Linked DNA regions of Homo sapiens. The protein of the gene in region 1 interacts with the protein of each later gene in a pairwise test. Each region holds a gene or a part of one and is shown in the gene's direction. Other genes may lie near its edges.

Evidence for each region.
Region 2: the proteins of STX12 (region 1) and GORAB interact in binary tests that used the Homo sapiens proteins (3 or more experiments, as listed by UniProt).
Region 3: the proteins of STX12 (region 1) and DTX2 interact in binary tests that used the Homo sapiens proteins (3 or more experiments, as listed by UniProt).
Region 4: the proteins of STX12 (region 1) and TMEM167B interact in binary tests that used the Homo sapiens proteins (3 or more experiments, as listed by UniProt).
Region 5: the proteins of STX12 (region 1) and ABCA1 interact in binary tests that used the Homo sapiens proteins (3 or more experiments, as listed by UniProt).
Region 6: the proteins of STX12 (region 1) and KASH5 interact in binary tests that used the Homo sapiens proteins (3 or more experiments, as listed by UniProt).
Region 7: the proteins of STX12 (region 1) and NEMP1 interact in binary tests that used the Homo sapiens proteins (3 or more experiments, as listed by UniProt).

What each region holds. Positions count from the first base shown.
Region 1 is NC_000001.11:27,811,219-27,814,718, forward strand, and holds part of STX12 (syntaxin-12), read left to right. Parts: intron 1-944; coding exon 945-1,050; intron 1,051-3,500. UniProt on the Homo sapiens protein: SNARE promoting fusion of transport vesicles with target membranes. Together with SNARE STX6, promotes movement of vesicles from endosomes to the cell membrane, and may therefore function in the endocytic recycling pathway.
Region 2 is NC_000001.11:170,549,166-170,551,749, forward strand, and holds part of GORAB (RAB6-interacting golgin), read left to right. Parts: intron 1-2,584.
Region 3 is NC_000007.14:76,464,709-76,468,208, forward strand, and holds part of DTX2 (probable E3 ubiquitin-protein ligase DTX2), read left to right. Parts: intron 1-3,500. UniProt on the Homo sapiens protein: Regulator of Notch signaling, a signaling pathway involved in cell-cell communications that regulates a broad spectrum of cell-fate determinations.
Region 4 is NC_000001.11:109,093,764-109,097,434, forward strand, and holds the end of TMEM167B (protein kish-B isoform 1 precursor), read left to right. Parts: intron 1-653; coding exon 654-736; coding exon of another isoform or gene 737-816; 3' UTR 817-3,171; downstream 3,172-3,671. UniProt on the Homo sapiens protein: Involved in the early part of the secretory pathway.
Region 5 is NC_000009.12:104,785,156-104,788,655, reverse strand, and holds part of ABCA1 (phospholipid-transporting ATPase ABCA1), read left to right. Parts: exon of another isoform or gene 1-88; coding exon 89-230; exon of another isoform or gene 231-601; coding exon 602-736; exon of another isoform or gene 737-1,039; intron 1,040-1,679; coding exon 1,680-1,783; intron 1,784-2,265; coding exon 2,266-2,358; intron 2,359-3,016; coding exon 3,017-3,260; intron 3,261-3,500. UniProt on the Homo sapiens protein: Catalyzes the translocation of specific phospholipids from the cytoplasmic to the extracellular/lumenal leaflet of membrane coupled to the hydrolysis of ATP.
Region 6 is NC_000019.10:49,415,370-49,418,490, forward strand, and holds the end of KASH5 (protein KASH5), read left to right. Parts: intron 1-304; exon of another isoform or gene 305-789; intron 790-1,645; coding exon 1,646-1,710; intron 1,711-1,786; coding exon of another isoform or gene 1,787-1,789; coding exon 1,790-1,897; intron 1,898-1,999; coding exon 2,000-2,141; coding exon of another isoform or gene 2,142-2,182; 3' UTR 2,183-2,621; downstream 2,622-3,121. UniProt on the Homo sapiens protein: As a component of the LINC (LInker of Nucleoskeleton and Cytoskeleton) complex, involved in the connection between the nuclear lamina and the cytoskeleton.
Region 7 is NC_000012.12:57,061,792-57,065,291, reverse strand, and holds part of NEMP1 (nuclear envelope integral membrane protein 1 isoform a precursor), read left to right. Parts: intron 1-552; coding exon 553-646; intron 647-1,106; coding exon 1,107-1,221; intron 1,222-1,947; coding exon 1,948-2,173; intron 2,174-3,500. UniProt on the Homo sapiens protein: Together with EMD, contributes to nuclear envelope stiffness in germ cells. Required for female fertility. Essential for normal erythropoiesis. Required for efficient nuclear envelope opening and enucleation during the late stages of erythroblast maturation.

The sequences.
Region 1 (3,500 bases):
TGAGGCAGGAGAATCTCTTGAACCCGGGGGGCGGAGTGAAGTAAGCGCCACTTCACTCCGGCCTGGATGAAAGAGCGAAACTCCGTCTCAAAAAAAAAAAAAAAAGCCAGGCATGGTGGCTCAAGCCTGTAATCACAGCACTTTGGCAGGTTGAGGCAGGAGGATAGCTTAAAGCCAGGAGTTTGAGACCAGCCTGGGCAACAAAGCAAGACCCCCATTTCTAAAAAGAATTTTTTAAAAAGTGTTATAACATTTCACTAGCTTTCTGTTAAGAGGGTTTTTTATGGATTGTTTTTTAATAGAGATGAGGGTTTTGCTATGTTAGCCAGGTTGGTCTTGAACTCCTGGCCTCAAGCAGTCCTCCTGCCTCGGCCTCCCAAAGTGCTAGGATTACAGGCATGAGCCACCGCGCCTGGCCTGTTAAGAGGTATTTAACCCAAAGCATAACCCCAAGGAAATTTTGGAAAACTAGGAGATGTGATTCTGTTGAACTAACTGGCAAAGCACTGATAGGTCACTTAGCTTGCTCTTCTCCACCCACTTAGTACTGAAGGTACTAATGCAGCTTGCACTTTGAGAGTGCCCTGGAAGATGATGGTGCAACATAATTCAATGAGTTCAAATCTCTGGCTACTTTCCTTGTCTGGCAAGCCCCAGTGAGATTACAGAGTATACCCCTAAATGGAAACAGCCAGGAGTCCCATCCGTCATAATTCTGCCACATGTCAGCTTTGCCCATGGAAGCTGAGTCTTTGTTTTCCTGATATCATCAGCTCTTTGCTTCTGGATATGAAGAATGTGGCCCTCCAAGACTTTATTGATAGCAGAGGACTGGAGCCCTGGTAATGTCTTTGCATAGGTTCTGCTGGCAGTAGAGATGTTGGAGATATGTCTTGTTATGCCTTTGAGAGGAGAAATCACCTAGTGTGCCTGTTTCCCTGCAGCCATGAGGAGTGGAACCAGATGCAGAGCCAGGAGGATGAGGTGGCCATCACTGAGCAGGATTTGGAACTTATTAAAGAAAGAGAAACGGCAATTCGGCAGCTGGAGGTGAGAGCCACGTCATGTTTTTTGTTTGACTCAGTGTGTCTGCAGGTATCTGAACTCCTTAGTTCACTTTAATTCTCTTAGTGATTATGAAAAGGCATAAAATGTGTCATTGTGTGATTTGTATTTTTTCTGTCTCAGTGTAATCATGGTGGGTTTGAACTACCGGTTTTTTTTGTTTTTTTTTTTATCTTGGATGGAATTTCGCTCTTGTTGCCCAGGCTGGAGTGCAGTGGTGTGATCTTGGCTCACTGCAACCTCTGCCTCCTGGGTTCGAGCGATTCTCCTGCCTCAGACTCTCGAGTAGCTGGGATTACAGGCATGTGCCACCACGCCCAGCTAATTTTGTATTTTTAGTAGAGACGGGGTTTCTCCATGTTGGTCAGGCTGGTCTTGAACTCACGACCTCAGGTGATCCACCCTCATCGGCCTCCCAAAGTGCTGGGATTACAGGCGTGAGTCACCGCTCCTGGCATGAACTACTGTTATAATGGCATTGGCCTTGGTGCCCAGGAGTACTCAAATCCTTTCCTCAATCACCACATCTTATACGGATCACCACATCTTATTTCTCCTGGAGAAATGTACATGGAGAACAGAACAAGGCAGACAGATATTTTATTGCTCATTAGAACTTTGACCTCAAATCTCAATGCCAACCTCCGGGTTAGGCAGGACTCCATGGAGAGCCCCTTTGCTTAGTCTGAAGAGCCCAGAATAAAGGCAGGCCAAAAGTCTTGCTCCATTTTTGTATATCCTAAAGTCTAATCCCAAGTTGTACATCTTATCCCTTCAGTGAGTCAGAGAAATAGGAACAGTTTTTGAGGTGGAGGTTGAGGGAGAAGTCTGTAGGCCTTTCTTACCTAACTGAGCTTTCAACTTTAATTTTGCACAGTGACTAATAAAATATCCTTTTTTTTTTTTTTCCGAGACTAAGTCTTGCTCTGTCGCCCAGGCAGGAGTGCAATGACACTATCTCAGCTTACTGCAGCCTCCCTCTCCTGGGTTCAAGTGATTCTCCTGCCTCAGCCTCCTGAATAGCCGAGACTACCAGTACGCACCACCACACTCGGCTAATTTTTGTATTTTTAGTAGAGACAGGGTTTTGCCATTTTGGCCAGGCTGGTCTTGAACTTCTGACCTCAAGTGATCTGCCTGCTTCAGCCTCCCAAAGTGCTGGGATTACTGGCATGAACCACTGTGCCCAGCTAAAATATCCTTAAACCTGAGTTTTCTCCAGTTTAGTTTTCTCCGAAGGTAGAAGGCTGCCATTGCTGGGATCAGGGGAGGAGAAAAGGAGAGAGGGAAATTTTGAGCTCTTCCTTGGCCTCCATCTGTAGCAGTGGTTCTGAACTGTGAGTGCACATGAGGATCACCTGGAGAAGATTTTTTTTTAATGCCCCAGCTCTCATCCACCACTAATTACCTGATGGGATAATGTGAAATTCCTGTTTATTATATGTTAAAAATGGGCAAATATCCATTATTTTATATGGTTCAAACTAATAAATCATAATTTCTGGGCGTGAGGCCCTGGGCATGGGTATTTTTTTAAAAAGTTCCCCCAGGTGATTATAATATGCAGCCAGGGTTGAGACCCACTGCCCTAAAGGCCATCAATGTCTGTTTTTATCTATTTATTATTTATTTTTTGAGTCAGAGTCTTACTCTGTCACCCAGGCAGGAGTGCAGTGGCGCGTTCTTGGCTCACTGCAACCTCCACTTCCTGGGTTCAAGCGATTCTCCTGCCTCAGCCTCCTGAGTAGCAAAGATTATAGGTGCCCGCCACCACTCCTGGCTAATTTTTGTATTTTTAGTAGAGACGAGGTTTTGCCATTTTGGCCAGGCTGGTCTTGTCTGTTTTTAGATGGGATAGTTTATCCTTAAGTTATGATTATTTTATTGCCTTCAAAAATGTCATATCTTTACTCTTTTTCACCTACTGCTACTACTAATTGAATTAATTGTCTAACATTAGAAATATGGCTAAGTGCAATGGCTCATGCCTGTAATCCCGGCAAGTTGGAGGCTGAGGCAGGATGATTGCTTGAGCCCAGGAATTCAAGACAGCCTGGGCAGTGTAGCAAGACCTTACCTCTACAAAAAATAAAAAATTAACCGGGTGCTGTAACATGTACCTGTGGTCCCAGCTACTCAGGAGCCTGAGGCAGAAGATCACTTGAGCCCAGGAGATCAAGGCTGCAGTGAGCCATGATCGTGCCACTGCAATCCAGCCTGGGCAACAGAGCAAGACTCTGTCTCAAATAATAATAATAATCCTTCCTTCAAAGAAAAATTACTAGCCGGGCGCGGTGGCTCATGCCTGTAATCCCAGCACTTTGGGAGGCTGAGGCGAGTGGCTCACCTGAGGTCTGGAGTTCAAGACCAGCCTGACCAACATGGTAAAACCCCGTGTCTACTAAAAACACAAAAAATTAGCCGGGTGTGGTGGT
Region 2 (2,584 bases), about 140 Mb from region 1:
TAACAAAACAGTTCTATAATTACATTTCCAGTTCACTCTGTCTTACTGTGTTATGTATAATGCTCTTATTATTTTGTTCCAGAATGTCATCATACACTAATTTGGTATTACCCACCTGACCATAGGCTGGTAGTGCAGTTTGTGAAACTAATCAATATTTTAAACATTAAATCACTCTGTGGGAGAATATATATTCGTATTTCTGGCCAGAAGGACTTTAAATAAATAAACAAAATACAAAATCTTCAGTGATTTATCCAGGGTGATAGATCAATGGAAACCAAGGGACCTGTTCGCAAATGTTAATTTCAATTCAGTATTCATGAATCCAGACTGTAAATCTCTACTGATTGACTTTGACTGGCTGAAGGAGACCACAGACTTGCAGAAAAGGGAGGTTTGAGGCAGGGTCAGGGCAGGGTATTCATACACCTATAGAGAATGTCAGAACTCTTGTCTTGTTGCAAGAACATTACATGAACAGGGTATGTTATAAAGTATGGAGATAAGGGAACTAGGTATCCAGTAGAGTTCCTTTAGAACAATTCTTTTAACATAGAGGGTTATTGAAAGATAATGGGTGCTCTCATTTTTACATTTACTATATTTACAGTTAAAAAAGGAAATAGGATAAATTAACATTATGTAAATGAGTTTTCAAGTATAAATACCAGGTCCCTAAATTTTCCATAATCTTAATTTTAGATTCATGCTTACTAATATATTAACAGTACTTTTTGATTCTGGTGTTCTAAATGAGAAGTTCTGTTTCTTGAGCACCTACCAGGCACAAAACTGGAAGTTTGCCCCATTTATACTGTTTAATCTTCAAAACTCCTATGAGGTATTATTATCATCATTGTTTTACAGGTAGACCAAGACTCAGCTTAAGTAACTGCTCAGAGTCACTGTGCCGGAATTTTCAGTTATTGCATGCCTCTTCCCCAACCCCTTCCAGAGGAACCTGGCTGTGTTTTGGACTCAGGATGCTGACCTGGGGCATACCTAATTAGAATAGTGATGGGCTACCGACTCCAGTACATTTAATCCATAGGCTAAATAGTGGTTCACGGCATGGCCTGACACTAAGAGTTCTGTTTAAACTGAGATGAGCCGGGCAAACCTATGTTCTCCTCTGAGAGTGTGGAATTGGATCACTGAGAGATTGGGTGGAGTGAATTTGATACAGAGTGCAGGTGGTGGCCATATTGGCCTGTGAGTATGATAGGAAAGCTGAAATGAGAGAAAATGTGTCGCTTCTAAGCATTGAAAAGAATAGCCTTTGATTCTGATGACATGACTATGAAATTGCCTCGTGTATCCTACAATAAAACCCAATTTTTACCTGAGCTAGTTTGACTGGATATCTGTTCTTTGTATCCACAAGAAGCCTTGACCGAAATGGGTACACATGGTAAATGTCAGGAAGGTTTTGAACCCTGAGTTTTCTAAAATGAAAGCCATTTATTATTTTCACTGTATTTTCTTCCAAGACAGAGAATCCTAAATTAGGAGATATACCTGTTTCTTTTTTGCTATAACTCTTGTACTAGAAGCTACTTATTACACTAAGTTGATGTAGGCACTCATAACAGGTAAAGCAGCATGGCCTTCACAACTGCTAATGGTAATGAAATTAAAGAACTAGTTGGAAATCAATCTTTTTTCTTGCAAGAGAGGAAGGACCCTCTTGTTGCAAAAAGAAAAGCAACAAATTTTATAGAAAAGGCAAAAGACAATAAATTAAGACACGATAACTCTTCTTTTTGTACTGACCTAATGCAGAAGAAAAAAAGTGAGATTGCAAGGTGACTTCTCTAGTAGAATTGCCCTATTTCACATAAGACTTCACATAAGATTACCTGTCAACAGAGTTTATACATGTGTAACTATGTAAAATTTCCTAGTAAGAGTGTAAGAGGAGTAGTGGAGAGAATGAGAACAACTTAACCCAAGGATTCTCAACTGGGAGCATTTGTGTCCAATAAGGGACATTTGGCAATGCCTGGGGACATTTTTGGTTGTCATAAATTTTGGGAATTACTGGCAACTAATGGGTAGAAGCCAGTGATGCTGTTTAGCATCTTGCAGTGCAGGACAGCTTCTCACAACAAATAATTATATGGCCCAAATTGTCAGTAGCACCAAGGTTGAGAAATCCTGCATATAGCTATCCTGAGGTTTTCTACTTGATGTTTACTTCTTGCCCTCACCCAGTATCATTTTGCTGGGTGTGCTCTGTTCCATTTATATTCATCTCCCGACCACTGTCCGTATCTTTCTCCATCAGAATTTTTCTTTTTTTCTAATTTATTAATCAAGAGAACAATTTTCCACTTTCTCCATCTCTTGTCTGTCTTCTCATAAATTTAACCAGCTGTGTGCTGAAGCTAGCTTACCCTGGTTCATGTGGATTTTGTGTATCTCTTCCCAGTTCTGCATTCAGTAATATCACGTTGGTGGCTTGAAATTGGACAGGGTGGTAGTAATTATCCCATGGAAATGTAAACGCTACAAATCAGGGCTCCCCATCCTCCCACCCCAGAACTAGCATACCACTGAATTAACCTTTTAGCCTGCCTTC
Region 3 (3,500 bases), on another chromosome or scaffold:
TTTTAATGGAGCACACTGGAACATGTGGAATGGGTTTAGACTGGATTATTCGCTTTGTGGCGGTCTTCTTACATACATCATGCCAGCTTCTTCGTGGGGAGAGGCAGGTGAGTGGTTTTGCCCTCAGTTGCTTATAGTCTAGTTGAAGAGATAAAGTGAACATAGAGAACTGAAAAGGAACTTGCTAAGAGGGTGTTTTCTTTCATTCTTTTTGTTGTTGTTGTTTTGTTTTGTTTGTTTACTTTTTGAGACAGGGTCTTACTCTGTCACCCAGGCTGGAGAGCGGTGGTGCAATCTCAGCTCACTGCTCAACTTCACCTCCCAGGCTCAAGAGGTTCTTGTGCCTCAGCTTCCCGAGTAGCTGGACTTACAGGTGCACACCATCATGCCTGGCTGATTTAGAGGGTGTTTGCTTTCTGCTGGGCACATCCAGGCATCGTGGGAAGTGCTGTTTAAATTGGGCCATAAAAGGGTGGGTAAGGTGAGGACAGGGGACCAAGTGGGTGGGATTCAGGGTGAAGCAGAGTCATGGGGGTGGGGACAGACACGCTGATGCACATGGGAGTAGTGGATCCTCATTTACACTCTGGAAGGGAATTGTGGAGAGGGAGGTATAGATGAGGGGATGGAAGGGAAGGGCACCGGCAAATATTGTTGATAGCGAGGGAAGGGCGGTATTGTGATCGGCTTTGACTGTCAGCCTAAGGAATTTGAATTTCATTCTAGAGATCCAGGGGAGGTGTGTAAAAGACAAGATCAGAACGTTAGTTCAGGAAGCTTAATCTTTTCTGCCCCCCCATCTGAGATGTACAAGAGGGTTAGAAAGCAGAGTTGGAGAAGCTGTTTGGGAGGGAGCACTTATTTGTTTTTTTGTTTTGTTTTGTTTTTTTGAGATGGAGTCTCGCTCTGTTACCCAGGCTGGAGTGCAGTGGCGCCATCCTGGCTCACTGCAACCTCCACCTCCCGGGTTCAAGTGATTCTCCTGCCTCAGCTTCCCAAGTAGCTAGGACTACAAGCACCTGCCACCATGCCTGGCTAATTTTTGTATTTTTAGTAGAGACGGGGTTTCCCTCTGTTGGCCAGGCTGGTGTCGAACTCCTGACCTCAGGTGATGCACCCACCGAGGCCTCCCAAAGTGCTGGGATTACAGGCGTGAGCCACTGCGCCCGGCAGGGAGGGGGTAAAGTGAGAGGCATAAGGGTCCCGGCCAGGTGTTAGCAGGGGGCTTCAGAGGTGAGGAGAGAGCAGGGCAGGCAGCTGCTAGGCCTGGGGGAGCGGGCTGCGGAGGACTGAGAATCTGAGGTTTTTCTCTTGGCCGCCTGGGGGAAATCCAGGGGGAAAAGGAGAATGAGGAAGGAAGATGCGTTTGGCCTCAGACGTGTTGAAGGTATTAAGAGGCCAACAGGAAATGAGGCCATGGGCTAGAGAGAAGAGCCCTGATTCATTCCCCAAATGCCTCCCGAAATTCTGTGCGCCGAGGCTTGTGTTTGGCACTTGGAGTACAAAGATGAATTCAGCAGTCTCTTTGGTGTTTGCCTTATCAGCTAAGCTGAGAACAAGATTGATTAGTACACACTCCTCAGTGTTCATGCCTGACCTACTTTTCCTTATTTAGTAAGTTATTTTTAATAAATGTAGTAAGCTCTGGCAATCTAGGCACCCAAAACAAAAGCTGGGATCATGAAACAAAAGTATATATCTAATCTTTTTTTTTTAATTTTAAAAAACTTTAAAAAGTTTTCTACTTTATCAGGTCCCCTTAGAACATCTAATCATTTCATTTGAACTTGTTTTCTGTTCTTACCCTGAGGTAATCATTATCTCCTTTCTTTCATTTTTTTCTTAGTTTTATCTTACATGTGTATTTCTTTGTTTCTCTGTCTCTTTTTTTTTTTTCTTTGAGGCAGAGTTTCACTCTTATTGCCTAGGCTGGAGTGCAATGGCACGATCTCGGCTCACTGCAACCTCCACCTCCCGGGTTCAAGCTACTCCCGATTCTCCTGCCTCAGACTCCGGAGTAGCTAGGATTACAGGCATGCGCCACCATGCCCGGCTAATTTTGTATTTTTAGTAGAGACGGAGTTTCTCCATGTTAGTCAGACTGGTCTCAAACTCCTGACCTCAGGTGATCCACCTGCCTCGGCCTCCCAAAGTGCTGGGATTACAGGTGTGAGGCACCGCGCCTGGCCTATTTCTTTCTTTTTTTAGAGACAGTGTCTCACCTTGTAACCCAGGCAGCTGGAGTGCAGTGGCATAATCACGGATCACTGCCGCCCCAAATTCCTGGGTTCAATGGATCCATCCCCTTCAGCCTCCTGAATAGCTGGGACTACAGGCACAGGCTACCATGCTTAGCTAATTTTTAAAGTTTGTGCAGAGGCAGCTTCACTGTGTTGCCCAGGCTGGTCTTGAACTCCTGGGCTCAAGCAATTCACCCGCCTTGGCCTCCCAAAGTGCTGGGATGATAGACATGAGCCACCATGCTCGGCAGTGTTCATCTTTCGTAGCTATTGCTAGACCATTTCCTGAATGTAGTGCTTATACCAGTATCCACTTTACCAGCAGTGTCCTGTGTCTTGCAGCTCCACAGTCTTACCAACATTTGCTGTTGGCCAAGTGAATGGGTAGAAAATGGAATCTTTGGGAACTTGGTTTCTAGGTCCCTGAGCCCTGCTGCTGAATATCTCCTCTTATGTTTATTGGCATATGTGTTTCCTGTGAAATATTCATGTCTTTTGCCAGTTTTTCATTAGGGTTCTTGGTGCTTTATTTTTTGTTGATCTATAGGGCTCTTTATATATTGCTGATTTTAATCCTTCGTGTCTATTGCAAATATCTTCTCCCAGCTTTTAACCTATTATTCCTCTTTCTTTAAGGTGTCTTCTGTTGATCAGCCATTCTTCATTTTAACATAGCGAAATGTATTTTTTCCCTAGTACTCAGTTTTCTGGGTCTGGTTTGAAGTCTTTTCCTGAACATAACCCTTGCCTTTAAGGAGCGTATGCATTCTCCAGTGGAGGAGACAGATAATGGCACTGAGACGTCATGTGGGCATTGATTGTTAGAAGTGGCCACTTCTGCCTGTGGAGCGGGAGCGAACTTAGGAAAGATCTCACAGGGCAGAGTCTTGAGCTAGGAATTAAGAGATGAGTAAGTGGACAAGTGCGATGGGCATTCTCAGTGGGGGACGAAGGGCATGAAACATCCTGACCTGCCCTGGGCACTGCCAGGAGGTCCAGATGGCAGGAGCTGACGGTTTGAGGGGCTCGGGCAGGGCATCCCGAGGACAGCTTTGGGTGATCTGTATGCAAGGGAATATTGAAGCCATGGGAACAGATCCTGAGGATCCGGGGGGAATGGAGAGAGGAGGGGAGGAGGGGAGAGGGAGGCCAGGGCCTGATTCCCGGATGCAGAGAATGTTATCAACGCCCGGTGTGGCTCTGGGGAGCACCTGGGGCTTCCCAGGGGCGGGTGCTGTTGGCATGCTGCCTGCTGTGCTG
Region 4 (3,671 bases), about 81 Mb from region 1:
AAATTTTTTTTTGAAAAAGGACAAAATATAAACAAACAGTATATTCACCTAGACCCTAAAGCATAAGGATAGCATTTAGAAACATCTCAGAGGCCGGATGCGGTGGCTCATGCCTGTAATCCCAACACTTTGGGAGGCCGAGGAGGGCAGATCACCCAAGGTCAGGAGTTCGAGACCAGCCTGGCCAACATGGTGAAACCCTGTCTCTACTAAAAATACAAAAATTAGCCAGGGAGCCGGGCACGGTGGCTCACGCCTGTAATTCCAGCACTTTAGGAGGCCAAGGTGGGTGGATCACCTGAGGTCAAGAGTTCAAGACCAGCCTGGCCAAGATGGTGAAACCCCATCTCTACTAAAAATACAAAAATTAGCTGGGCATGGTGGCAGGCGCCTGTAATCTCAGCTACTCAAGAGGCTGAGGCAGGAGAATTGCTTGAACCCGGGTGGCAGAGGTTGCAGTGAGCCGAGATCGCGCCACTGCACTCCAGCCTGGCCGACAGAGTGAGACTGCCTCCAAAAATAAAATAAAAACATCCCAGGCCCTTGAGAGCGTTGATATGTCTGTCTGTGACTAGAGACTTCAAAATATCACCTTGAAAGTGAGGACTTCGGTGAAGGGCAGGGTGTGATTTCTTCTCTCTTTTGCCTGCTAGCCGCTGTGATTGGAACCAGGCTGCATGCTGCTGTGGCAATTGCTTGTGTTGTAATGGCCTTTTACGTCCTGTTTATAAAATGAATTCCAAAGCACCCAAGTCATCAACTGCCAACCAAGGGGACGGGGATGAAGAACCTGTTGGAGACCTGAACCCAGTGTAGGAGAGTTCAGCTGAAATCATCGGTCCCCAGGATGACACCACAGCATCTGCCCCTGCTATATGTGGGGAAAACTCATGGTCACGAACATTATTTATGCTTCAGGGGACTACAGAAAGCCAGCTTCCTTTGATCTATGTGTAAATCAGTCCTTGGCAGAGTGCATATAATGTCCGGATAAATTACACCCCTCGGTGATAAGATTACATACCTCCTTCATAAAAACCTGTCATCCTGTTTTGTTCTTCAGCTCCTCATCAGGATCTTTTCAAACTGAGGCTCATTAGGGAAGGAACTAGGCTGTGTTCAGACTTCTTTTGAAGAGAGAGAATTTTCAAGACTTCTTTTCACTCTTTGATTTGGATCTGGCAAATTGGGGAGGGGATGCTGGGTGGGAAACAGTTATGAAATGCCAAGAAATTCTTTGGCTTTAGAAATTTATCTTTCATGTACCCATCCGGGAACATAAAAGAGAGGCATAGTGCTCATTGCAAAAAGAGAACAGATGAAGTAGCTGTGTTATGTGCTGGTATCTTGAGAGTTTTGCCAAGAAAATCTGGGCCTACATAAAATTTGAGAATTATCTGTGTGATGAGACCAGAAAGCAGTGGCTTAGACAAGAAAAAATCTTTCTGTTCACCAGTATCCTCAAATGGAGACTTCACTTGATCAGATGGTATATGAAAAATGAATCAACTATTGCTATTTCGTAAAACCTTTTTATATTTTCTAAATTTACTTAGTGCTAAATACTGTTACTCAGTTTTAAATGCCACGACTAGGGGAAAAAGAAACTATTGAAGAAATAATTGTTTAGTATATTTGCAGTTGGGGTAGAAGAAAGAAATCTAGTATATTGATTCATATACTAGTAAATTCATCTAGTATAAGAACTTGTGATGTTAGATTGAAGTTTTGTCATCTTATAAAAGACAACAAACTTATTTTCTGTTTAAGTCTGAGTGTTATGGCAATTTTTAGTTGATTACTTATTTTTCTTAGCCAAATTTTAATTTTCTTCATATTGCATTGCTCTTTAGTTGTCTCTGGAAATTCTATTTACTTTAAGGACATGAGAAATTCAAATGAGAGAAGTTGCTGATATTCATCAGTGTGTTTGGACAGTTCATAGGGTCCACAAATCAAATGAGGTTGTTTCCTGAAGTAGAAGAAAACAGAACTTTGCAATTGATACTGAAGTACTTTGCCATGGAGTTAGTAACTCCTGAGCAGACCATTTTAGATGGCTCAGCATTTGGCAGGAAGACTTCTCCATTCCCTGCTTATATCTATGGAAGGATCAGCTGTTGGATGTCTAGAACTTCTCTATTTAAAAAAAAAGAGTAGGTCTAAAATTAAATTATTATAAGCAAGCATAGACATGGGTCTTCCAGTTGAATTGTCCATTACCGTAAAACTTAATGGTGGACAAGTTAGCTGTGGTTGATTCCTGTGTGGCAGTAAATTGTCTTCTGTCTGCTTACTCCAAATAATAAAAGCTGCTAGGAAGTTTAGATTTTGAAATAGGCAGTTTAATGCTTTGAGGGTTTCTAGAAATACAGAAAGTCATCAAGTAAACACTGCATGTCTAATCATCTCAGAGTTGTGGCTGTTATCTCTTCAGGAATTGGTCCACAGGGTAAATTTCAACAATTCATACGTTTTCCATTGTCATTTCTGAGGACCTTTGAGATGAGAGAAAGGAAATCTAGTGGAACAGGAAAGAGAGTTACACCTTGTGGGTGTGAGTTTGGGACCTGTTGGCAGAAGGGAATGTCACTCCCTGGAAACAGGTTCAGCATGTTTGCACTTGTTATTTTGTAGCTTTAATGATTTTTGTTTTCTAATAGGGCAAATGTCTCTAAGCTTGGTGTTTAGAGCTGCTTCATATTTTAAACTAGTTCCATTCCACAGTTCTAGTTCAAACCAGTTTTTACAGCCTCCTGGGTGGGTCGTCTTGACCCAAACTCTTGTGTTGTTACATTTTGAGAGGTTTTCATACCAGAATGTACCAAAAAGTGCACAAGGTAAAGGTAATTTACAGCCAGAAACAAATATACATTTGTTTCATTTCTTGACTTTCCCTAAGCAGATAAGCAGAAACTTGTTTAACTCATTACTTTGTTTGATGTGTCTTACATATTTTTGACTAAAAGTTATAGAATGTTATTCCTCTGGGGGAATCTTTTACAGGTGGAGGAATGGGGATAGCAGTATTGCCTCAGATTCAAACTGGCATCACCATAAACCCTGTAGGCCAGGGTGGAATGAAGTCAGCTCCTTTTTATAGTTGAAATACAATTTTTTATTCACCATTGTCTGCACAAATCCTTGAAAATAAACCTTTTTTTCCCTACAGTCTTTGTCAATTTATTTGTCACATGCTGAATTTATTGAAGTTTGTTCAGTCCTCCCCTGGGTTCAGTTCATAGCCTACCTTTTTAGTTCACATTAGTAAATACCATCATTCCTGTTATCCCATTGTGAGAGCATTGAATGTATTATATAGTTAAGAATCTATGATGGCCTAGTTTTCTCCTTTAGGGCAGCTGAGACAGATATATCTAGAGATATCTATAACTAGATATATATATGTATATATGATATGCTGAGATATATATAACTAAATATAAATGCATGTAGTAAGTTTTCATATATATACGAATAAGATATTCATATATATGTGAATGAATAAGTATTGAGGTATATGAATGAAATAAGGTAGATAGCACCCCCAATACATTCCATCTGCTATTGCTATTAAAATACAAGTATCATCTGCTCTAAACAGTCATAAACATCTTCATTCAAATGAAGTTAACAAGTTAACCAGCCAGACACCTAGAAAATCCTTGAGC
Region 5 (3,500 bases), on another chromosome or scaffold:
GCATACTTTACAGGAACATTAGGCCAGATTGTCTAACCAGAGTATCTCTACCTGCTTAAAATCTAAGTAGTTTTCTTGTCCTTTGCAGTATCTTATCAAACATCCATGAAGTACATCAGAACATGGGCTACTGCCCTCAGTTTGATGCCATCACAGAGCTGTTGACTGGGAGAGAACACGTGGAGTTCTTTGCCCTTTTGAGAGGAGTCCCAGAGAAAGAAGTTGGCAAGGTACTGTGGGCACCTGAAAGCCAGCCTGTCTCCTTTGGCATCCTGACAATATATACCTTATGGCTTTTCCACACGCATTGACTTCAGGCTGTTTTTCCTCATGAATGCAGCAGCACAAAATGCTGGTTCTTTGTATCTGCTTTCAGGGTGGAAACCTGTAACGGTGGTGGGGCAGGGCTGGGTGGGCAGAGAGGGAGTGCTGCTCCCACCACACGAGTCCCTTCTCCCTGCTTTGGCTCCTCACCAGTTGTCAGGTTATGATTATAGAATCTAGTCCTACTCAGTGAAAGAACTTTCATACATGTATGTGTAGGACAGCATGATAAAATTCCCAAGCCAGACCAAAGTCAAGGTGCTTTTTATCACTGTAGGTTGGTGAGTGGGCGATTCGGAAACTGGGCCTCGTGAAGTATGGAGAAAAATATGCTGGTAACTATAGTGGAGGCAACAAACGCAAGCTCTCTACAGCCATGGCTTTGATCGGCGGGCCTCCTGTGGTGTTTCTGGTGAGTATAACTGTGGATGGAAAACTGTTGTTCTGGCCTGAGTGGAAAACATGACTGTTCAAAAGTCCTATATGTCCAGGGCTGTTGTATGATTGGCTTGTCTTCCCCCAGGGACAGCAGAGCAACCTTGGAAAAGCAGAGGGAAGCTTCTCCCTTGGCACACACTGGGGTGGCTGTACCATGCCTGCAGATGCTCCCAAATAGAGGCACTCCAAGCACTTTGTTTCTTAGCGTGATTGAGGCTGGATATGTGATTTGATCTTTCTCTGGAACATTCTTTCTAATCATCTTTGTGTTCATTCCCTGAAAATGAAGAGTGTGGACACAGCTTTAAAATCCCCAAGGTAGCAACTAGGTCATAGTTCCTTACACACGGATAGATGAAAAACAGATCAGACTGGGAAGTGGCCCTTGACCTTTTTTCTTCTGTAGATAAGAGCATTGATGTTATTACGGGAAGAAGCCTTTGAGGCTTTTATGTATTCCACCTCGGTCTGGAATTTGTTTCTGTAAGGCTAACAGTTGCAATATACTAGGGTAATCTGAGTGAGCTGGAATTAAAAAAAAAAAGGAATTTCACCCCAATCTTATACTGACTTCAATAGAGGTTTCAGACAAAAAGTTGTTTTGTATATACTTATCAGTCATGAAAAGATAATTACAACTAAATGGCCTTTTTCCTTCCCTATTTATTTGGAGAAATTTAATTACATAAAAAAGTACTCAGAATATTTGAGTTTCCTGCATCAATAAGACATTTATAATAATGACCTTGTTTACAAATGAATTTGAAAGTTACTCTAATTCTTTGATTCATCAAGAAATAACTAGAATGGCAAGTTAAAATTTAAGCTGTTTCAAAGATGCTTCTGCATTTAAAAACAAATTTATCTTTGATTTTTTTTCCCCCCAGCAAATAAGACTTATTTTATTCTAATTACAGGATGAACCCACCACAGGCATGGATCCCAAAGCCCGGCGGTTCTTGTGGAATTGTGCCCTAAGTGTTGTCAAGGAGGGGAGATCAGTAGTGCTTACATCTCATAGGTCCGTAGTAAAGTCTTGGGTTCCTCACTGTGGGATGTTTTAACTTTCCAAGTAGAATATGCGATCATTTTGTAAAAATTAGAAAATACAGAAAAGCAAAGAGTAAAACAATTATTACCTGAAATTATATATGCATATTCTTACAAAAATGCAAGCCCAGTATAAATACTGCTCTTTTTCACTTAATATATTGTAAACATTATTCCAAGTCAGTGCATTTAGGTGTCATTTCTTATAGCTGGATAGTATTCCATTAGGATATACTCTTATTTAACTATTCCCCCTTTTGTAGACATTTGGATTATTTCCAACTTGTTCACAATTGTAAACACCACTACACTGAACAGCATCATCCCTATATCCACATGTACTTGTAACAGAATACAATTCCCTAGGAAGCTGGAATGCTGGAAGTCATGGTGATGTTCTCATGGTTACAGAGAATCTCTCTAAAACTAAAACCTCTTTCTGTTTTACCGCAGTATGGAAGAATGTGAAGCTCTTTGCACTAGGATGGCAATCATGGTCAATGGAAGGTTCAGGTGCCTTGGCAGTGTCCAGCATCTAAAAAATAGGTAATAAAGATAATTTCTTTGGGATAGTGCCTAGTGAGAAGGCTTGATATTTATTCTTTTGTGAGTATATAAATGGTGCCTCTAACATAAAGGGAAATAAAACTGAGCAAAACAGTATAGTGGAAAGAATGAGGGCTTTGAAGTCCGAACTGCATTCAAATTCTGTCTTTACCATTTACTGGTTCTGTGACTCTTGGGCAAGTGACTTAACTACTGTAAGAGTTAGTTTCCCTGGAAGATCTACCTCCTAGCTTTGTGCTATAGATGAAATGAAAAAAATTTACATGTGCCAGTACTGGTGAGAGCGCAAGCTTTGGAGTCAAACACAAATGGGTTTGCATCCTGGCCCTACCAATTATGAGCTCTGAGCCATGGGCAAGTGACTAACTCCCTGGGCCTCAGTTTCTCTGTAACATCTGTCAGACTTCATGGGTCCAGGTGAGGATTAAAGGAGATCATGTATTTACAGCACATGGCATGGTGCTTCACATAAAATAAGTATTTAGTAAATGATAACTGGTTCCTTCTCTCAGAAACTTATTTCTGGGCCTGCCAGGGGCCGCCCTTTTTCATGGCACAAGTTGGGTTCCCAGGGTTCAGTATTCTTTTAAATAGTTTTCTGGAGATCCTCCATTTGGGTATTTTTTCCTGCTTTCAGGTTTGGAGATGGTTATACAATAGTTGTACGAATAGCAGGGTCCAACCCGGACCTGAAGCCTGTCCAGGATTTCTTTGGACTTGCATTTCCTGGAAGTGTTCTAAAAGAGAAACACCGGAACATGCTACAATACCAGCTTCCATCTTCATTATCTTCTCTGGCCAGGATATTCAGCATCCTCTCCCAGAGCAAAAAGCGACTCCACATAGAAGACTACTCTGTTTCTCAGACAACACTTGACCAAGTAAGCTTTGAGTGTCAAAACAGATTTACTTCTCAGGGTGTGGATTCCTGCCCCGACACTCCCGCCCATAGGTCCAAGAGCAGTTTGTATCTTGAATTGGTGCTTGAATTCCTGATCTACTATTCCTAGCTATGCTTTTTACTAAACCTCTCTGAACCTGAAAAGGGAGATGATGCCTATGTACTCTATAGGATTATTGTGAGAATTTACTGTAATAATAACCATAAAAACTACCATTTA
Region 6 (3,121 bases), on another chromosome or scaffold:
CCCTGGGGGCGTAGTGCCCGCAGCCCCCCTGCCTGCAGCCACACAGGCCAGTTCCTCTGCTCCTCAGAGCCCAGTGCCCGGTGGGGGTTAAGATTTCCATTCTCAGGCAAGGACGGGGAAAGAAACTTGGTAAGGAGAGGTGAGGAGCCCTCAGTTGTGAGCTGAGGAATGCAGGAGCTGGGCTGGAGTCTGCCTGTTGTGGGTCAGGCACTGTCAGGGCCCCTGGGGCTCTTCAGGGTCCAAACCGGCCAAGATGGCTGCCTCCAGGACACTCAGCTCCCAGCACCCTGGCCCCGAAGCCCACCTCCTTCAACATACTACACTCCCTTGCAGAGACTGGGGCTCCACCTCAGCTTCCTCACAGCTCACATGGGCATAATCTCTTCCTTGCTCCCAGGGTGGGGAGGAGGGTTAAGGACTATGTCATAAAGGGCCTGGGTCCCTGCCTGGCACAGCAGGTGGTAGAGGTGAAGATATTGATTGTGATTGGTGTTCTGTTTTTATTTACTGCCATTATCATTGTCATTCATCATCCTCATCTGTGTTAAAAAGGTATGGGGGTAGGAAAGCCAAAGACCCATAGAGGGGAGGCCCTTCCGGGGAGACATGGGGGATGAGGCGGTGCAGTGGGTGGGGCCTGGCCCTGGAGGAACAGCTGGGGCTTTGATCTTTGAATCCTCAGATGAAGTGTTGGAATTAATCAGTGAATTTAGTGTGGTTGCTGGGTGAAAGATCAAAATAAAAAATCATATTTCAGTATAGCAACCATGAGCAATTAGAAAAATAAATTTGTAATTATACCATTTATAATGGCATGGTGTTTTGTTTTTGGTTTTTGTTTTGAGATGGAGTCTTGCTCTGTCGCCAGGCTGGAGTGCAGTGGTGCGATCTCGGCTCACTGCAAGCTCCACCTCCCAGGTTCACACCATTCTCCTGCCTCAGCCTCCCAAGTAGCTGGGATTACAGGCACGTGCTACCATGCCCGGCTAATTTTTGTATTTTTAGTAGAGACGGAGTTTCGCCATGTTGGCCAGGTTGGTCTCCATGTCCTGACCTTGTGATCCGCCCGCTTCAGCCTCCCAAAGTGCCGGGATTACAGGCATGAGCCACTGCACCTGGCCTGTAATGGCATGTTTTTAATTAGTAAAGCGCCTGCCGATTCTGGCATAGGCAGGAAGACAGGATTCTTCATGAGGCCCAGCACAGGGGTGGGCACCTGTAGAAGATGTGGTCTCTGCCCTCAGAGAGCTTAGATACTTCCAGAATCCAATGGAAAACGGAGGTGATGATATTGAATAGCTCACACAGACATTGAGCACTCACTATGTACCAGGCGCTGTCCAAGCTATTGCCCCCGCCTTTTTTTTCCTACATTCACTCATTTAGTCTCCATGTTAACCCTATGAGGTGGGGACATCCCTGGCCAGCAGATGGGGAAAGAGCGGCACGGAGAGGTGTGGTGACATGCCAAGGACCCTCAGCCAGAAGCTGGCAGAAATGGGAACCCGACCTGGCAGCAGAAGTGCACTCACTTATCTCCTGAGCTCCACCACTTTCTATGTGGCCACTTGTGTCCAGTGGGCTGACCTGAGCACCTCTCAGTCCAGAACCCGGTGCCTCCAACGCATCTCTTCTGTCCTTGCAGGCTGATCTCCCTGTCCCTCTAGGAGCCCCTCGCCCTGGAGACATCCCAGAAAACCCTCCAGAGAGGTAATAGGACCCACAGGGTCCAGGAGGGACACTGGGGCAAGGAAAAACCCAGTGGTGATTCCCTCCTTCACCCCAGCAGACCTGCGCGGCGGGAACTCCAGCAAGCCCTGGTGCCTGTGATGAAAAAGCTGGTCCCAGTCAGGAGGAGGGCCTGGGGCCAGCTCTGCCTGCCCCCACAGCGGCTCAGGTGTGCCCCCAGGCGTCTCCAGAAGGAAGGAGGTGGTCTGACATTGGGAAGAGCAGGGGCTGCCCAGACCCTGCCCTAAATGCTCTCCCACCTCCCCACCAGAGTCACTCGACATCCACTGATCCCAGCTCCTGTCCTGGGCCTGCTGCTGCTGCTGCTGCTCTCTGTCCTGCTGCTTGGCCCGTCCCCACCTCCCACCTGGCCCCACCTCCAGCTCTGCTACCTCCAGCCCCCTCCAGTGTGAGAGGCTCTACTTGCCCCTCAGAGCAGTGTCTAGCTCAATAAATCCCCTGGCCCTCTCTCCACTGGGATCCCCATTGTTAGTCCACTGTTGCGCAGGCTTACCCTAGATAGAGTACAGGGGATCCACATCCCTGTATTTTTATGTGAAGTCTCCTAGTTTTTTAATGCTGACATTTCTTAACAATAGCAAAACTCCCCCAGTAATGGATTAAGCACTAAGGATTATTCCCTCACAAAACAAGCCTGGCGAGGGCAGCTGTGGGCACACAGCTAAGTCTCGGTTGCCTTGGGGTCAGGGCCTCAGTGATTCTCCTGTCCCCTCCCTCATGCTCAGGAGTTGGCAGTTGTAGCTTCCTACATCACATCTGCGGGAAACGGAAATTTCTTCCTTCCTTTTTATAAAGAGAGGCAGTAGCCTCAGTGTGCAGTGGGTAGATTCAAATCATATTCATAATAAAAGAGAAGCAGTTGCCTGCCCAGAGCCACCAGCAGACTTGTGTTTGTTTCACTAGCCAGACTGTTTGGTGTGACCACCCTTAACTGTAAGGGAGGCTGGGAGACCTGGGAGGTCAAGTACCTCTGCGGGGACTGGGTACCTTGAAAGTGCCTTGCCACACACCTCATTCACACTGAAAAACACTGCAGGCCATGGACCTAACAAACACTCTGGGAGTCACCTACACACCACCACCAGTGTGCAGCTGCTGAGTGGCCTTGGCATGCATGGCCAAGCTGCTTCGAAGGGCTCCAGGATACCTCTTCTCCTTGATTTCTTTCTCCTTCCTACCTTCTCTACAGCTCTGCCTTGCCCTCCCCCGATAGGATCCTGACTCTGTCCTGCCACCCCTCCACGGGTAGCAGCCTAGGTTGACCCAGTCCCAACTGCATCCTAAGTCAATAAAGAACAATCTTCTTGGGCCGGGCACAGAATCACTTGAACCCGGGAGGCGGAGGTTGCAGTGAGTGGAGATTGTGCCACTG
Region 7 (3,500 bases), on another chromosome or scaffold:
TTTTGAAAGAAGTTGTGGTAAAATGCTATCAGACAGTATTGCATGCTTTAGAGAAATCTTCATTGAAAGGATGAGTCAATGCAGCAAACTTCATTATATTTTAAGAAATTGCCACAGCCACTCCAGCCTTCAGAAACCACTGCCTTCATCAGTCAACAGCCATCAACATGGAAGTGAGACCCTCCACCAGCAAAAAAAATGATGACTCACTGAAGGCGTAGATGATCTTTAGCAGGTTTTAGCAAAGTATTTTTAATTAAGGAATATATATTTTTAAGACATAATGCTGTTGTACACTTAATATACTATAATATAGTGTAAACAATTTTTATATGCAGTGGGAAACCAAAAAATTTGTGTGACTTACTTACTGCAATTGCAATATTTGGTTTATTGCAGTGGTCTGGAACCAAATTTGAAATGTCTCTGATGCTTGTACTGCTCTAATCTTGTACCTTTTAAAATCTTTCGGCTGGGTTAGTTGTCCTAGTTTCAACAGTGCTATGTATGAAATATATACATATGGTCATGAAATACATTTTTTTCCTGCAGAAGTCAAATTTTCTACTACTCTACTGGGATGACTGTGGGAATTGTGGCCTCTCTGCTAATCATCATTTTTATACTATCTAAGTTTATGCCTAAGGTAAGTATCAGAATCTTCATGTGCAGCTAGAATGAATTTGGATAGCTGAAGGACTGTTTTCCTGGGTAATCTTAGAAAACTGAAAATGTGTATTGATGGCTGATGAGTCAATATCCTACTCTCCTTGATTCAGAAAGGTACTTTCCACGATGAAACTTGGAGCCTGATTACAAATTCTTTCTTTTTATATAAAATCCTGTGCTCAGAGGGGGATTAAAGTCTGCTTCCTGTTTTTTAATTATATAGCCAGGCTTTTAAGTTATTTAGCATTTCATCTTCCCAGTGTTCGTTGCAGACTGTACCATTTTAAGTATAAAGGACATCTTTTTAAGAGAAGTGTTTTTTGTGCATTTTGAGTAGGTTGAATTTTTTAAAAAAAAAATCATAGTTCCATTTTGCTTCTTTTATGTATGGAAAGCCTGTTGTAACTTTTTGCTTTCACTTCTACTCTCTGTCTTAGAAAAGTCCCATTTACGTCATCCTGGTGGGAGGCTGGTCTTTTTCTCTGTACCTCATTCAACTAGTTTTTAAAAATTTACAAGAGATCTGGAGGTGTTACTGGCAGTATCTTTTAAGTAAGTGTTGTCGGTTTTGCTTTCCTTTTGTACGTTTATAGGCTGTTTCAGTTAATTTGATCATGAAAAGATTTTGCCTGCTTATGGGATTTAATAGTTCATGTCATTTTTTTAAACTTTTAAAAATCATAGTTTTTCACTTATTTCTAATCCCTCTACAATTATCACCTTCTCTTAAATTAGAATGGTGCTGTTAAGGCGAAGATGTTCATTTATTGGTATTTATAAATATACCTTTCTTTACACAATAAACATCTTTCTGAAAAGCTGTAAGTTGACTTTATTAATGGAATCATATTTTAAATATACTTGGGGACCTTAAGTAAAAGACTCCGCAGTTAATTTTTTTCTCCTTCATTTCTGAATGAACTGCTGTAGATTTTATTTACAAAGTAAAAATCCTTGGTCATATAGATAGTAACCTTTGAGTTATCCTTTGAAGGGTGATTAATCTGGATTTCTGTATATTGGTTTTTTAAAATAGTCTATTTCAGGGTTGTTCAACATGTACCTTTAATGTTCTGTTTGAACCAAATAAATTTGGGACAGCAGAAAGGATAGAAACTTAGAGAAATATATTCTAAGAAAAAAGTGTGAAAAATTAAGTAAAAATCTGATTTCCTAGTTCAATTGGTGCTATATAGTAAATTAACTACTGCTTCCCACACAAATTATTTTTACCAAGTATAGATGAAAAAGAATGTCTTCTGATAACTCTTCTCATAGGTTATGTCCTCACAGTTGGATTCATGAGTTTTGCAGTATGTTACAAGTATGGGCCCTTGGAGAATGAACGAAGTATCAACCTGCTGACCTGGACCTTGCAGCTGATGGGCCTGTGTTTCATGTATTCTGGCATCCAGATACCACATATTGCCCTTGCCATTATCATCATTGCTCTTTGTACTAAGAACCTGGAACACCCTATTCAGTGGCTGTACATCACCTGCAGGTGACTGAAAGGCAATGTAACTTAATATTGACAGGTACATTGTGGGATGCAGTTGCAGCAAGAGGATACAGAGGTGTTGACCTGGGAGCTTCTTTGTTAATGAAAAGTCATTGTATTGTACTTCCACTTTTGTTCCTTCCCGAGTCTATTTTTTTTTTTTTACTTTCTATAGGAATTTTTATATTTTTATTCTAGTCATTTTATATAAAATGTCTAGTAAAATGTCATGTGTTCCTGTTACCACAAGGTGGTGCAAATTCTATCACTGTTTTTTTGAGATGGAGTCTCGCTCTGTCGCCCAGGCTGGAGTGCAGTGGCGTGATCTCGGCTCACTGCAACCTCCACCTCCCGGGTTCAAACGATTCTTCTGCCTCAGCCTCCTGAGTAGCTGGGATTACAGGCATGCGCCACCACATTCAGCTAATTTTTATATTTTTAGTAGGGTTCCCCATGTTGACCAGGCTGGTCTTGAACTCCTGACCTCAAATGTCAGGAGTTCATAAAGTGCTGAGGAGCTCCCAAAGTGCTTGGATTACAAAGTGCTGGGATTACAGACATGAGCCACTGCGCCCCGCCACAAATTGTATCGCTTTTATACCGTATGCTCATTGAGGTCTCCTGGGTTCAGATTTTTTTTTTGAGACAGAGTCTCTCTCTGTCACCCAGGCTGGAGCACAATGGCGTGATCTCGGCTCACTGCAGCCTCCACCTCCCGGGTTCAAGTGATTCTTCTGCCTCAGCCTCCCGAATAGTTGGGACTACGGGTGGGCGCCACTATGCCTGGCTAATTTTTGTATTTTTAATAGAGATGTGGTTTCACCATGTTGGCCAGGGTGGTCTCAAACTCCTGACCTCAGGTGATTTGCCCACCTCAGCCCCACAAAGTGCTAGGATTATAGGCGTGAGCCACCTCACCCAGCCCATTTCAGACTATTTCTCAGTGGCTTTCAGATTGCTCTGGAGGTCTTAGTCTTATTTTAAGATGTAATTCATAGCATGTTTTGTCACCTTGCATAATAAATATGGAATGTTACTAGGTCCTGAAGTTGTCTATTATAGATAGTCAAGGTGATGCTTTCAGTTTGGGAAACCAAGTTACTGGACCACAATCTTTTTTTTTTGAGATGGAGTCTTGCTCTGTCACCAGGCTGGAGTGCAGTGGTGCTATCTCAGCTCACCGCAACCTCTGCCTCCTGGGTTTAAGCGATTCTCCTGCCTCAGCCTCCTGAGTAGCTGGGGTTACAGGTACATGCCACCATGCCCAGCTAATTTTTGCATTTTTATAGTAGAGATGGCGTTTCACTATGTTGGCCAGGATAGTCTCAAT